Linked DNA regions of Homo sapiens. The protein of the gene in region 1 purifies or fractionates together with the protein of each later gene. This does not show direct contact. Each region holds a gene or a part of one and is shown on either strand. Other genes may lie near its edges.

Region 1 (7,793 bases):
AAGACCAGCCTGAGCAACATGGTGAAATCCTGTCTCTACCAAAAATACAAAAACAAAACAAAACAAAAATAGCTGAAAGTGGTGGCATGCATTTGAGGTCTCAGCTACTTGGAAGGCTGAGGCAGGAGGATCCCCTGAGCCCGTAGGCGGAGCTTGCAGCAAGCCAAGACTGTGCTACTGCACTCTAGCCTGGGCAACAGAGTTGAGACCCTCATCTCAAAAAAAAAAAAAGAAAGAAAGAAAACTGCGTATTAATGAACAAAGTAGACTTTAAAACAAGGAGTATTGCCAGCAAAAAGGATATTTCAAAATGATAAAAGCGTCAAATTATCAACAGTAGTCCTAAATATTTGTGCACTTTCTAATTTGAAAATACCTGAAGCTTTCTTTTATTGATTGAATGAAACAGCAGAAAGGAAGAAACACTTCCAAACTTTCTTTGAGGCCAAGATAACCCTGATAAGAAAACATATCAAGAATATTACAAGGGCTGGGTGCAGTGGCTCACGCCTATAATCCCAACACTTTGGGAGGCCAGGGTGGGCGAGCCTATCACTTGAGGCCATAATTTCAAGACCAGCCTGGCCAACATGGTGAAACCCCATCTCTACTAAAAATACAAAAATTAGTTAGGAGTGGTGGCACATGCTTGTAATGACAGCTGTTTAGGAGGCTGAGGCAGGAGGATTGCTTGAACCCAGGATGCGGAGGTTGCAATAAGCTGAGATTGCACCGCTACACTCCAGCCTGAGCAACAGAGGGAGACTCCGTCTCAAAAAAAAAAAAAAAGAAAAGGAAAAAAGTGTATCAAGAGTAAGCCTTTTTGAGATACCATGTGAACAAAGACTTGGAGTTAACATATACTGCAGCCAAGGATGGAGAGGCCATCAATTGACAGGAAAAACTGCAAGCAAAGCAGATTTTGGAACAAAGATTTGAAATTGTTTGCAGTATGTTCACTTTGAAGTGTCTGCTGGAGATTGCTTGGATCTAGGAATGTAGAGTTCAGGAGTGAACTATAGGCTAGAGACAGAAATTTGGAAATTGGCAGCATTAAAGCCACACAACTACAAGATTGAATGAGATCACCAAGAGAATAATTATAGAGAAGATAACCAAATGCGTCCATATACGAGGCCGTCATAAAATTGGTTCTTTTTCAGCTTCCGCATTTATACACAAGCATACTTGATGTTTTAGCCATATCAAACTGACTGATTTTCGGACTACATCACTGCTGTTTTGTTCATGTTTTATTAGACTGCATCTCTTGCCCTTCCACAGGATAAGCTAGTCGTTCTTCAAAATGTTTCCCATTGTCACCTTCATTCTAGTATTATTTTTGTACTATATGTACATACACTGTTAGTAGCACATTGTATATACCTGTCTTTCCTACCAGATGTAAACACCTTTGCATTCCAGATGCATAACACATAGATACTCAAATATTTATTGAAATATAATTGATTTATGCTTTAGGCAACTCTATTATGTTCATAAGAACTTTAGAAAAATTTAGATTGACAGAATTTTTTAAATCTCCATTAGGTTAGTTTTTTAATAGAGAATTTGGACTTTTAACTTAATTTTTTATAGGTTATTCTAACTAAAACCTTTTTGGTTGTTTACATTCAAGTAATGTTATTTTCTTGACATGTCTACATATCCCTTATGCTTATGCCTTTTTTTTTTTTTAACTCCGTGTTCCTTGCTAACTTATATTTACAAGTTGATTATAGTACTTTGATATATTTAGAAAATCCATGTCTTAAAATAATTTGGAGCTAAGTGATCAGGATTACAGAAGTATTCCATTTCAGTCAGACATATCATGTTAATGAGAGTTAAACTATATTTGAAGCTCAGTTTTGCTGACAAGGTTACATTAAGTGAACATTTTGAAATTTTTCTAGCATATTTGTTTCTTGCAAAAATCAAATTAATTTCTCAAAAACAGCTTAATTTTTCCAACAGCTACCAAACAATACTTAAATCTCAAATTTGTTTAAAGCGTGTATATACATATATATAACGCGCATAGAAAAATATTGGAAGACTATCAGCAAACTTATTTCTGGCCATATTATTGCAGGATATTTTCCCTTTCTACGTCATTTCTATGGTGTGCTTTAAAAAAAAAAAAGGCATGTATTTTTTTAATTAGTTAGGGGAAGATTAAGCTGCCTATTTCCTAATGGTTCAATATTGTTTTCTCTATTTAGGCTTTATCTGGCCACCCTAATGGAAACTTTTTTTAGTAGTTAACTTTTATTAGACTCATTGTAGCACAGTGCACTATAACCACTTTTTCTTCTTGTATGAAGTCAAGAAATACCTGGTATTATTCTTTGAAAACTGTAAGTATGCTTGAAGCCTAGTTACTACCTACAAATGATTCCTAAAGTTTTAAAAACCTCAAGTTCTTTCATTTATACTTTAGAAGCTTGACTTTGTAGGTTCTTAAGTTACTATTATTGTTGATACTTCAACTTCATAATGTAATTTTAAATCACTTTTTAAATACTAAGACTTTTTTTTAAATGAGATGCTCTAAATTAATACAAACTGTATATAAAAAAATTACTACACCCAACTTGTGGCACTATGGTAAGTTAAACAGGAGACAGTGTAGGTAAGATGTGATCCCTGTCAGCTACTGCATTTTTAAAGGATCCTATATTTTGGCCAGGCACAGTGGCTCACGCCTGTAGGCCCAGCACTTTGGTAGGCCAAGGTGGGCGGATCACTTGAGCTCAGGAACTGTAGACCAGCCTGGGCAACATGGTGAAACCCTGTCTCTACAAAAAATTCAAAAATCAGCTGGGCGTGGTGGCATGTGCCTTCCTCAGCTACTCGTTAGGCTGAGGTGGGAAGATCACTTGAGCCTGAGAAGCGGAGGCTGCTGTGACCTGTAATTATGCCTGGGCAACAGAGCAACCCTGTCTCAAAAAAAGAAAAATAAAGGATTCTATAGTTTACAGGATAACAGTATCCACAGATTTTTCTTTCTTTCTTTCTTTTTTTTTTTTTTGAGGCGGAGTCTTGCTCTCTCGCCCAGGCTGGAGTACAGTGGTGCGATCTTGGCTCACTGCAACCTCTGCCTCCTGGGTTCCAGTGATTCTTCTGCCTCAGCCTCCCGGGTAGCTGTGACTACAGGCACGTGCCACCACACCGGGCTAATTTTTGTATTTTTAGTAGAGACAGAGTTTCACCATATTGGCCAGGCTGGTCTCAAACTCTTGACCTTATGATCTGCCCACCTTGGCCTCCCAATTTTTTTTTTTTTTTATGTGAATGGTAGATAGTGGGGAAAGTGAGCCCAGTAGATTTTAGTCAGAAAAGTGTTATGAAGAGGGGGAGTTCTGTGAATGAGATGTAATCTACTTAAAGAAAACATGAATTTCATACAGGGAATTCATTATAGTTGTCAAATACTTGGGATGAGAAAAGACTATACTTAAGTGACTAGAAGTTGGAAGAGACTATAACAAGAAAATGTCTATTTTTTTATTTTTACTTTTTTAAACTTCCTATGGTGCTGAGGGGTTTTTTAAATATATAAATCTCTTACCCTTTTACTAACATGTTTGTTTATTTAATCTGTGTGGTTGCTAAGAAACTATGTTCAGATTTTAGGAAGACATACAAGACATGAAAAGATCATTGGTTGCAACAAATAATACAGATTAGTGGTATAAAAAATAATCAAGGCAGGAAGGATAAAGTTCCAAATGAGCTAAGCCTTTCAAAACTGCTAAGTATGACAGAAACGATGCTTTATGCTGTCTTTTGTGTTCTTCATACAGACTACTTAAATAGGGGGTAAAAGTCTCTTGTTTTTGCCTCTAACTCCTTACCAAGTAGAATGTTCTCCAAACTGGGCATTATAGAGTAATACATCTTAGAGAACTTTGTACTATAAGATAAAATATTACATCATATTCCTCTCCAGATAAATCAAATTTAGAAATTTCTTTTTTTATCTGTAATTATTGCTGTTTTTTGTTTTGTTTTTGAGACAGTCTGTCACCCAGGCTGGAATGCAATGGTACACAATCATAGCTTACTGCAGCCTCGACCTTCCAGGCTCAAGCAGTCCTCTCACTTCAGCCTTCTAAGTAGCTGGGACCATAGGTGCACGCCACCACACCTGGTTAAGTTTTTTTAAAAAAATTTCTTACAAAGTTTTGCTATATGCCCAGGTTGGTCTTGAACTCCAGGGCTCAAAGGATCCTCTCACCCCGGTCTCCCAAAGTGCTGGGATTACAGGCCTTCATGCCCAGCTGTTTTTTTTTGTTTCTGTTTTTGTTTTTTTGCATTTTAATCTAAATTTTAACATTTCAAAATACAGTTTTTAAAATTACAATTTCTACTACAAATTAAAATCCTTTCAAGCATGTTTTTGTATATGTTAACAAAAGTCCGTTGTTAAATATAGTTGAAATGTGCTTTTTCTCTACAAAACACAATATGCTACAACATCTTTTTGGGCAAATAATACGGATGGAGCAAAAAAATTGTAGAATGCTGTCAGGTTTGCCTTATCACATTTGATCCACCTTTAACAGTATTGAAGTTCACTTCAGCTATTAAAAATTCTTTGTTTACAGCTCTGCAGGCAGAATACCTTTGATACTTTGTTAGAAATTGGAACTGAAAATTTTTCGCTTTAATCTTTTCCATGGACCCAATTGTTTTGATTACAAGTGGTTTCTTAGGAATGCTCCTTTTATTAGTCCTTTCTCATGCTGCTAATAAAGACATACCCGAGACTGGGTAATTTATAAAGGAAAGAGGTTTAATTGACTCACAGTTGCGCAGGGATAGGGAGGTCTCAGGAAACCTATAAACATGGTGGAAGGGGAAGCAAACACATCATTCTTCACATGGTGGCAGGAAGGAGAAATGAGAGCGAAGTGAAGGAAAGCCTCCTTATAAAACCATCAGATCTTGTGAGAACTCACTATCACGAGAACAGCATGAGGGCAACCGCCCCCATGATTCGCCGGGTCCCTCTCACAACATGGGAATTATGGGAACTACAAGATGAAATTTGGATGGGGACACAGCCAAACCATATCACTCCTGTTGCTTTCTTAATGGATAGTTTTCATCCTGGGGTGATTTTCAAGATGGTGGATTCCTTTGTTTCGTTTCCAGCAACTCTGGTTCTGAAAATGGGGTATGTGTATCCAGGAATGTGAATTTTGCATATCACCTCTGTGACTCTGATGTAGGTAGTTCATAGACCACGGTTTTCATGAATAGAATGTGCATGGTATTGCATACCTCCATTGTTTTCTTAGAATAAATTACTAGAAGTAATAAGATACTTGGGCAAAGGAACTGTAATTTTACCAGAAATAGGTGTATCTAAATTTTTCTGAACTATGAACTACAAGGAAAATTTTGACACTTGCAGAATGTTATTCTGGCCTTTGTAGTAGTCGTTGTGTACCATATTTGTCCCTGAATGTATGTAATTATATGAAAGCTATGAGTAGAATTTGTATTGAATGACTGTCAAAATTTGCTTATAAATGATAATTTGCTTATAAATCAACTCTGAAAGAGTTGGATTTATCAATCATGTAAAAAAGACTTGGTACCCCTTTCATATGTTCATATTAACAAATGGGGCTAATTATGTTTTATTGAGTACATTTTGATTTGTTCCAGTAGCCGGATCGAGCTGGGAGATGTGACACCACACAATATTAAACAGTTGAAAAGATTGAATCAGGTCATCTTTCCAGTCAGCTACAATGACAAGTTCTACAAGGATGTGCTGGAGGTTGGCGAGCTAGCAAAACTTGGTATAATATAGTTTTTTTTTTGTCCTCCCTTCTTTTCTTTCTTTTTGTTCTTGAACCCTAGTTTTTTATAGAGCAGAAGAAGTTAACTAATTTAGTTTGTTTATTTTATAAGTGAGGAAATGGGAGTGGTCTAGGTTGTGAGAAAAATCTCAGAGAAATCAGTTGAATAAAACAGTTGAATTTTAAAAAGAAATGCTTAGTGTTCTTAGTGTATACCTGTGTGTTTTCACTTTAAGCTATACTCTAGAGGAGGCTTAAACTTCCTAAGATGGCATAAGAGCTTTGAGATCATTGATATTCATGAAATAGTTGATGAAATTTAATGTTGATAGGAACAGTGTAGTCCTTTAAAAGGGAAAAAGATTAAATGTGTTATTCTGTCTGTTCAACATTATATCTTTATGTTTTCCTTGGCAGCCTATTTCAATGATATTGCTGTAGGTGCAGTATGCTGTAGGGTGGATCATTCACAGAATCAGAAGAGACTTTACATCATGACACTAGGATGTCTGGCACCTTACCGAAGGCTAGGAATAGGTAAAAAATTGTGGTTTTTTTACTTCTTCAGAGAAGCATAAACATATTATTTGTTAATGTGTCTGACCTAGTAAGTTAATTTGGGTCTTTTTAAGGAATACTGAGAAAGGGTTACTGAATTATGTAAAATATGGTGAAAAATAACTAGTGTTTATTAACATAATTCTATTGGAAGCCCTACATAGATTTGCTGTTTACGTCCCCTTCTGCTTTTTCTGTTTTTCTTCTACCCGGAAGTGCTTGTTTAAAAAGGTTAGTCTTCTGCTAACAGTTTTAAACATACGTAGCTATTGTAGAGAGAGAACACAACTTTGGAAAATAAGGATATCTAGTGTATACCTCATAAATTCTTTTAGGACTCAATAAGTAGTTCAGATGGCAAGTGGATAGATACATAATTTAAAGGTTGATTTATGAAGTCACGTGTTTGTTATTTATTTTATTAACAGGAACTAAAATGTTAAATCATGTCTTAAACATCTGTGAAAAAGATGGTACTTTTGACAACATTTATCTGTAAGTAAAATAATATTTAATGTTCTTATCAAAGGGGTTTAATTGGCAGGAGAAATCTTTACTAGAAACTTTAAAATCTGGTCACTTATTGTGCCTTTGGAAACACTGTGGAAGTAGTTGTTACAAAGTATTCGAGTAGTTGTTAGTTTTGTTTAGTTTTGTTTTATTAATAATAGTAGATTAGGAACCTGAGATAGAACACATTGCTTTATTATATTAGGATGAGAGCACCAAAGTCACAGGGATGAAATCAGGATTAAAACTCAGGCCTTCAGAATTCAAGACTATTAATACTACTTTTCTCATGCAAAACCTTGTGTGTTTTGTTCAAGGCTATGTTGATAGCTTTGAACATTGTAGTAGATCATTTGTAGTAGAGTTTAATAATCAAAATCAGAGATTACCTAGCTGAGATTGTACTTGAATCTCAAGAGGCTGTAGATAAAGAGTTATGACTAAGATCACAGTCATGGATGTTCATAATTTAGTTTGGCCATGTGAGAGATTGAATTATACAGTGTTATTTTGGGAGTAATTGAGAAAGCTTGCGTTTTTAATTTTTAAAACATACCATGTATTTTATCAATCAGAAGGAAGATATATCTTCAAGCTTTGAGACCCTAGTTTTTTATTTTTCATCATTTTTTTTCTGTGTGTTAATAGGGCCTTTTAATAATTTATCCTCTTACAGTGAAAAAATTTTGATAGCTGTGGTACTTTTCCCTTTGTTGACTACAAGAATAAACACTGAGCCTTCTAATCTCAGCCAGCTGTCTTACAAATGTAAAAATTAGATTAAAAGTGTAAAATTGTCATCAAAAGGTTTTAGGTAAGCATGCCTAACCCTTGTTGATTACTGGTAGTTGTAAAGAGAATGTAACAGATGTTTGGAGCTATCTGTGGAGAATGCTTAAAACTTGA
Region 2 (8,675 bases), on another chromosome or scaffold:
GGGAGGAGAGTAACTGATGAATAAAATTTGAGGAAAAGCAAAAAGGGATGAGATGAAGAACTCAAAGGGAGGAATAAGAGTACCTTTCTTTCTCGGAAAAAAGAGCCGGCTGGGCGCGGTGGCTCACGCCTGTAATCCCAGCACTTTGGGAGGCCGAGGTGGGCAGATTACGAGGTCAGGAGATCGAGACCATCCTGGCTAACACGGTGAAACCCCGTCTCTACTAAAAATACAAAAAAAATTAGCCGGGCGTGGTGGCGGGCGCCTGTAGTCCCAGCTACTCCGGAGGCTGAGACAGGAGAACGGCGTGAACCCGGGAGGCGGAGCTTGCAATGAGCCGAGATCGCGCCACTGCACTCCAGCCTGGGACACGGAGTGAGACTCCGTCTCAAAAAAAAAAAAAGGAAAGAAAGAAGAGCCAAGAACATGGAAGAGAGCAGAAACATCAGGGAGTCTGGGGTGGAACACGTTGTATAACCTGATAAGTTATTTTCCCATCAGCTTTTAATTACATAGTTAAATTGGCTGTGGGAATAGCAGCAAACTATTTGATTTTAGGTTGCCAGCTGGCTCTGGAAGACATGCACGTATATGGGGTGGAGAAAATCCTTTTCCAGATTCTTCTCTCCTTGTCTTTACTAGGCTGAACGAGAAGAATCAGTGGCCCATATTACATATGTAAAAAGGGCTTTGGGAATTGCAAAGGTCTTTACAGATGTGGTTACTGTTATTTTACTTTATGCATGATTCTAAAGGAGGTATGCACCGTCTGAAGTGCCAGGAAGGAGCATCTGGGTGGATGTCCATGATGGCCCCAAAAGGACTTCAGCATTTTTCCTGAGAAACAGTGAGTTCAGATTTACACAGTATTTGTTTTTTATCACAGGCTTTGAAATGACTAAGCATTAAATTCACATAACCCTGCTGTGAAACACATTATCATGTTATTATAACCCCATTTTCTGTTGAAAGGTAGAAATAAGATCTGTTCCAGACTAAACAGGAAGTCAGTAATAAGATTATAGTTACTGGTTAATCTAGGCTTTCTGATTGTGCATACATTACATCTTTTATACACATAAGGTTCAGGATGACAACTACCAGCACCGTGATTGGTGTTCTTTTCTATTCCCTCCCTCTCCCCTCACCCCCACACTAGTGTAGACAACCAAGGTGATATGGTTTGGATTTGTGCCCCCCCCACCCCAATCTCATCTTGAATCGTAACCCCCAGTGTTGGAGGAGGGGCCTGGTAGGAGGTGACTGGATCATGGGGACAGATTTTCCCCTTGCTGTTCTCATGATAGTGAGTGAGTTCTCACGATCTAGTTGTTTAAAAGTGTGTAGCACCGCTGGGCATTGTGGCTCATGCCTGTAATCCCAGCACTTTGGGAGGCTGAGGCGGGTGGATCACAAGGTCAAGAGTTCAAAACCAGCCTGGCCAACATGGTGAAACCCCATCTCTACTAAAAATACAAAAATTAGCTGGGCATGGCGGTGCATGCCTGTGGTCCCAGCTACTCAGGAGGCTGAGGCAGGAGGATTGCTTGAACCCAGGAGGTTGCAGTGACTGAGATCATGCCAGTGCACTCCAGCCTGGGTGGCAGATGAGGCTCCATCTCAAAAAAAAAAAAAGTGTGTAGCACCTCCTCTTTCACTCTATTCCTCCTGCTCCAGCCATGTAGGATGTGCCTGCTTCCCGTTTGCCTTCCACCATGATTGTAAGTTTCCTGAGGCCTCCCCAGCCATGCTTCCTGTATAGCCTGTGGAACTGTGAGCCAATTAAACTTCTTTTCTTTATAAATTACCCAGTCTCAGGTAATTTTTTATAGCAATGTGAGAACAGACTAATACAAAAGGTATGTGTGTATGGTGTGTGAAAGACAGATGAAGAAGATATTAAATATGAGTATTTATAACTATATATAACTATAGTTTATAACTAGTAGCAAACTAGTGCTGCTTTCTAGTATTTGGGATTGCAGATTTTCTTTGCGTGACTGCGCTTCCCTGGGAGATGCTGGCACGGAACTGTGTGTCCTGGGAAGTGGAAGTTGGCAGTGGGTCGGAGGCTGCAGAGTGCACGTGAAGAACCTTCCTGGGCTGCTGATTTAGGGGTTGGGGAGAGCAATGGTGAATGAGGGTGATGATTTAGCTGCTACCACAGAGAGTGAAGATAGTTAATGATTTGTAGTAAATAAGGCTGGAAGAGGCCCACAGGAAACTTTCATAAAAGATAATCGTTCCTTGTCTTCAAAATATTTACAGTTGGTACTATGCTTTTCTTCCCTTCTCTTGTATATTTCTTTTAAAAATCTAATTTGTCATTTTGAAATAGGTCTAGAAAAGTCCATGTCCTATGAGGGTCAAGTGAGGGCTTGACTGACGCACTGAAGGTTTGGCTCTTTTCGTGAGTAACCCTTCACTTCTGATGATGTAGATAAATGACAATGTAGATAAATTGGGAGCCAAAGGTTTTCAGGAATTAGTAATGCCGTGGTAAGCAAACTGTGGCTAGCAATTATGGCAGTGGTTGAGTATGAGGGTGCTGAGAGGAGGCACTTCTGTGTGCTTGCTCAGTTCTCCGGGTGGGGGACTGCCACTAGTACAGGTGCGACTAAGGCAAGCTCCTAAAGCATCTATACTTGCCTACTTCCTAACAGCTTGGGCAGCTTGGGAGCTCTGCAGAGTACACATAGGCCCTTGAACCCCCACTTTTATTTTTTTCTTTCCATTTTTTATTTTAGACTCAAGGGGTAAATGTTCAGGTTTATTACACAGGTAAATTGCATGTTGTGGGGGTTTGGTGTACAGACAGTCTTGTCACCCAGGTAATCAGCATAATACCCTATAGGTAGTTTTTTAATCTTCACCCTCCTCCTACTCTCCACCCTCAAGTAGGCCTCAGTGTCTACTGTTCCCTTATTTGTGTCCATGGGTACTCAGTGTTTATAATTCCACCTGTAAGTGAAAACATGTGGTATTTGATTTTCTGTTCCTGCATTAATTCATTTTGGATAATGGCCTCCAGCTCTACCTGTGTTGCTGCAAAGGACATGGTCTCATTCTTTTTTGTGGCTGTGTAGTATTCCATGGTGTACCACATTTTCTTTATCCAGTCCACCGATGGGCATCTAGGTTACTTCCATGTCTTTTTATTGTGAATAGTGCTGCGATGAACATACACGTGCATGTGTCCTTTTTTTTTTTGAGGCAGTTTGTTGCCCAGGCTGGAGTGCAGTGGCATGATCTTGGCTCACTGCAACCTGTCTCCCAGGCTCAATTGATCCTCGCACCTCAGCATCCCAAGTAGCTGGGACTACAGGCACTCGCCACTATGCCCAGCTAGTGTGTGTGTGTGTGTGTGTGTGTGTGTGTGTGTGTGTGTGTTTGCCATGTTGCCCCGGCTGGTCTCCAACTCCTGAGCTCAGGGTGATCCGCCTGCCTCAGCCGCCCAAAGTGCTGGGATTACAGGCGTGAGTCACTGCACCTGGCTGTGCATGTGTCTTTACGGTAGAACAATTTATATTCTTTTGGGTATATACCCAGCAATGGGATTGCTGTGGACCCCCAATTTTAATGACAGTACTTTCCCTATTTTAAAGGACTCCTATGATGCTTTAAAATCATGTGTGAAACGTAGGAGATTGAAAGAAAAAAAAAGACTCCTATGATTCTTTCATGTCCAACCAACTTAGGCTAGAAAGAAGGAAAATCAAATAGGCAGGCACTGTGGCTCACACCTGTAATCCCAGCACTTTGGAAGGCCGAGGTGGGCAGATCACCTGAGGTCGGGAGTTTGAGACCAGCCTGACCAACATGGAGAAACCCCGTCTCTACTAAAAATACTAAATTAGCCAGGTGTGGTGGTGCATGCCTGTCATCCCTGCTACTTGGGAGGCTGAGGCAGGAGAATCGCTTGAACCTGGGAGGCGGAGGTTACAGGGAGCTGAGATAGCGCCATTGCATTCCAGCCTCGGCAACAAGAACAAAACATCGTCTCAAAAAAAGGAAAATAAAAAAGGGCAGCCCAGTTCTGATTACAGCCGACTAAATGCAGTTACTCATCAATTACTTTATAGTCTCAGAAATATGCACCCATTAAGATTCAGCACATGTATAAATAAACTTATGTACCTAATGTTTACACACACCTTACTACTAACCCTACACTGAATGTATGGTTTATTCTTGCCACTGTTGTATCTTTCTAGACTCACACATTACCATCAATATGCTGCCTTTTATTTGTTGTAGAGAGTATCCCAGAGTTGGAAGATCCTGAATTTGAAGCCTGTTTCTCCCATTATTATATGGCTTTCAGGAAGGGGAACCATCTGAAGAGAAAGGGTAGGTAGACTCAGAAGACCAGTGGCCTTATAAAACCGTAATTCCGGCCAGGTGTGGTGGCTCACGCCTGTAATCCCAGCACTTTCGGAGGTTGACGCGGGGGCGGATCACGAGGTCAAGAGATCAAGACCATCCTGGCCAACATGGTGAAAGCCTGTCTCTACTAAAAATACAAAATTAGCCGGGTGTGGTGGCGCATGCCTGTAATCCCAGCCACTCGGGAGGCTGAGGCAGGAGAATCCTTTGAACTCAGGAGGCGGAGGTTGCAGTGAGCCCAGATAGCGCCACTGCACTGCAGCCTGGGCGACAAGAGCGATACTCCATCTCAAAACCAACCAACCAAACAAAAACAAAGATTGTAAATGTTTGTTTGGTTTGCCCTGGAAAGAGAAGGCTTCTACTTAGAGTCTGAATCAAGGAGGAAAAGGAAAGAAAACAAGTTCATCTTTCATCAAAAGTCTACTTTGCATCGGACACTTAAATTCCTAAATGGGGAGAAATGCAAAAAACTCTGACTCTTCAGAGTCATAACTAACATTATCTTGCGCCACAAGCTTATCAAGAGTGCAATACAAGTCAGTGTCTTCTCTTTTCTACTTAAAAGAAAATTCTCGTTTTTATTTATTACTTTATTGCAAGGAGAAGCAGACAATAAGTAGGAGTCTTATGAGGCGTTCTGATGCATAGGAGCAATGGTGAATGAGGGTGGTGACTCACCACCCCATGGGACTCCAAGGTTTTGGTGACAGCTCGCCTGAGCCCCAGGGGGTGCCGAGATTGCGGCGAGGAGAGCCGCAGCACAAGGCAAATCCACGCGGTTGGTCCCCGCTACGCCCCCGTAGTCACCCGCAGCCCCTCGCCAAAGGGCGCTCCGCGCATGCGCACAGGATCCGGCTCGGGAGGCGGACCCTGGCTGCCATCTTGCAGTGCGCGGGAACCGCCGCCGCCGCCGCTGGCCAAAAAGCGGAGCCCAGGGGAAGCGTGTCCTGCTCAGACCGCCTTCCTTCTCCATTGCCACCCGTGCCGAACAGCCAGGCTGCCCAATTGCAACTGTAGACCAATGAACTAATCCATCGCCCGCAGCCCGACTCTCAGCAGCGGTTCGTCCCGGTGCCCACCCCCGCGAAGCGGAGCGCCCGGGCACCTAGCCTCCCTGCCGGCCACCTAGCCTCCCTGCCGGCCACGATGCCGAACGTGCTGCTGCCGCCCAAGGAGAGCAACCTCTTCAAACGCATCTTGGTGAGTGGCCGTAGGCCGCGCTGCCGCCCCCCGGTCCCCGGGTCCTCGGGCCTTAAGGGCAAGCGGTCTGGCGGCGGCCGGCGCGGGCCAGGCTTGGCCTCCGCTGCCCACCGCTCTTTGTTTACCTCGGAGGTCGCGGGACCCCACTTTCCCGCTCCGGCCGGCCCACGGGGGCTGCCGAGCCGCTCCTCCGTGCGCTTCCTTTCCGCGGTCTTCTGCGGCTCGCCTCACCCCCGCCGCGCTCTTTCCAGAAACTTCACGCCGCTCTCCGCAGTGCCCGGGCACAGCCGCCTCGGCCGGTAGTGGCTGCCGTGCTCTCTGCCGCGCCGGGCTCGCAGCAGCCCCTCAGGGATCCTCCCCCGGTGGTTTATTTTGCCAGTCTCTCCTCGGCTAGGTGTTTTGCGTTCTGCATTCTCTGCTTTGCGTTTAGTTAGATTGCACAGCACACCCGCATACCTATTAAAGCGGGATCGATGCGATGGTGGAATTTTTCCTGGTTACGAGGAAATAAAACCGGCAACTTTAGGAAGCCAGGCCTGGCACCACCTCCCTTTGGGAAAAAGTTTGCCTGTTTGTAATGTACCTTATTTACCTCTTTGGAAGTGAATATTTGACTTGAAGTGCGTTTCTGAGTTGTCACCAACTTCAAAACAGCTGTTTGCTTTTTAGTCGCACAGGCCTTGCTTGAGTAATTAAAGCCGCGTGGACTGGCTGGTTTTGCATTTGAGGGGAGCATTTTTACTTTATCGCGGAGCAGAAGCCTGAATAATGGCCCCGTAGTGATGACCGCTGCGGAGCCGGGTGGGCAGTTTTCTGTGGGCTGTGTGCCAGCGTCCCTGGTAGCTTTCCAGGTTCTGTTCTTCCAAGGAGAAGAGGCAGCATTCCTTTGCTTTCCTCAGTATCCTCTGGCTACCCTAGGTTTTAAACTAATATTGTTAGTAGGTAACTGTCTTTTCTAGTTTATCTTTTCACCTGAAAAAAAGCTTTTATTTGCTAAACATGCATTTAGGTTTAAAGGTGAATTTATTGAAAGCTGGGTTGGCTATATGGCTGTTAGTTGTTGCTTAACTTTACTATAAATAAAATACTAATTTTAGAGTAATTTTAAGTATGAACAGCGGCAGATAATTCATAGTAGCTGTTCTGTTTCAAGACGATAGAAACTTCACACTTAGTCTTCAGATTAGGATACATAGTAGATGGGATAAAAATTTTAAATATTATGTGGTGCTTAGTTTTGAACCAATAATAAGATACAAATGTGAGAACATTAAAAATACGAATAATTAAAGCACGTGGCAGGTTGCTTCATTGGGCTTTGTATTTTTTTATTTTACTTCTCATGCCCTTTTATTTTACACAGCATGGAATTGGAGAAGTAATTTATTTATTTTTATTTTTAATTTTTTTTTGCCCTGGGAATCTGAAACATTAATGATAATATCATTTATAAATCGCTAGTTGGATTTCAGGACATTTGGCATCATACTTTAAAGATGACAGCACTTCTTTTCTCTTTATACGAGTTTTTTGTAGTTCAAATCATGGATCAGTGTCATAAGGAAAAAGTTACATTATTATTCTTAAATTACAAAAAAGGTAGGGTTTATCCCCAAATAAATTGGGAAATGGTAACCACTAAAAAAAAATCAATTATTTTGAGATGGAAGTCTCGGTTTGTTGGCCAGGCTACTGTCGAATTCCTGGCTTGAAGCGATCTTCCCACCTCAGCCTCCCAAATTGCTGGGATTACAGATGTGAGCTACTGTGCTCAGCCAAGCTAAACATTTTTAAATCTAGGTATGTAATGTTTCTGACAAGGTTGCGTGAATTTAGGAGGATTCTGCATAAACGAATGATTTTATCATTTCACAATTGCAATAAATGTGGGTAAAATTTGGCTACAACAAATTCCATAGCAAACAGAAGTCTCTGTAATAAAATTATCTTTAAAGTTTAGTGGATTAAAGTGCTTTGCCACCAACAGTAAAATTTTTTCTATTGAAAAAATTCAAACACATCCACACAAACTGACCAGCTGGTTTTTTACGTGTTCCACGTGGCTTGTATCTGCATGTCTTATTCCCCAGACTGGATATTAATTAGCATTACAGTTTGTTGAATTTTGGAGGTATTCCATGCCCTCTTTTAGAAAGAGACAAACCTAAAGATGGTAAATGACCAAGTGGCTAAGGTTCTCTGTCTGGTTAGTAGCAAAGTTGAGACTAGAATCTATCATTTCTGCTTAGTATATAATGGTTCCTGAGTGAATGTAGATTTGTCTTTTTTTTTTTTTTGCGAGAGTGTATCGCTTTGTCGCCCAGGCTGGAGTGCAGTGGCAAGATCTCACTGCAACCTCTGCCTCCCAGATTCAAGCGATTCTCGTGCCTCAGCCTCCTGAGTAGCTGAGATTACAGGTTGACTTGTCTTTACCCGAGTACTTGGACTCTGGGGACAGACTACCTGGTTAAGAGTTGTGGCTCTGGCACTTAATAGTTATATAAACTCTATAACTATGCCTCAGTTTCTCTATCTAAATGGGGATATCATGCATCTCATAGGCTTTCCTGGGATTTAAATAAAGAGTAAATAAGCTGTCATGGGATGAAGGAAAAAAATAACAGTGTCTGGACGTATAGTAAATGCTTCCAATAGGTGTTAACTATTATTACTGTTATTGGCAGTATGATTATTATTATTTTCAGATAACCTGGTAAGTCAGAAAAACTAGTATTTCTATTTGTCTTTCTCAGTAGTTCCTTTCTCTTGTTTTTTTCTTGTCATTTGTGAGACAGACTTGTAGTCAAACTCAGATTGTCATTTTTTATTTTAAAATATTTTTGGAATAGGCAGTATATTCACATGGTTCAAAATTTAGGTTTCTCTCCTATCCTTATCGCAGAATCACCTAGTTCCCTTCCCCAGAGGCTGTCAAGAGGCCTCAATATAAACTTTTTTTCCATGAAGACTTTTCTAATTCCTTCCACATCCAGCCCCTGCTGCAAGGCTTAAAGATGGTCTCATCCATTGCTAGTGGCATTTTGCTTTGAACTTAGTAGGCTGTATTTATGGAGCAGTTTCTTATT

What was found.
Region 2: the proteins of NAA50 (region 1) and NAA16 purify together in Homo sapiens (co-immunoprecipitation; 2 studies listed by BioGRID and IntAct, with this or other methods). This does not show direct contact.

Annotation. Positions count from the first base shown.
Region 1 is NC_000003.12:113,721,985-113,729,777, reverse strand, and holds part of NAA50 (N-alpha-acetyltransferase 50), read left to right. Parts: intron 1-5,682; coding exon 5,683-5,819; intron 5,820-6,236; coding exon 6,237-6,356; intron 6,357-6,805; coding exon 6,806-6,872; intron 6,873-7,793. UniProt on the Homo sapiens protein: N-alpha-acetyltransferase that acetylates the N-terminus of proteins that retain their initiating methionine. Has a broad substrate specificity: able to acetylate the initiator methionine of most peptides, except for those with a proline in second position.
Region 2 is NC_000013.11:41,305,994-41,314,668, forward strand, and holds the start of NAA16 (N-alpha-acetyltransferase 16, NatA auxiliary subunit), read left to right. Parts: upstream 1-5,273; 5' UTR 5,274-5,535; coding exon 5,536-5,589; intron 5,590-5,714; exon of another isoform or gene 5,715-6,045; intron 6,046-8,675. UniProt on the Homo sapiens protein: Auxillary subunit of the N-terminal acetyltransferase A (NatA) complex which displays alpha (N-terminal) acetyltransferase activity.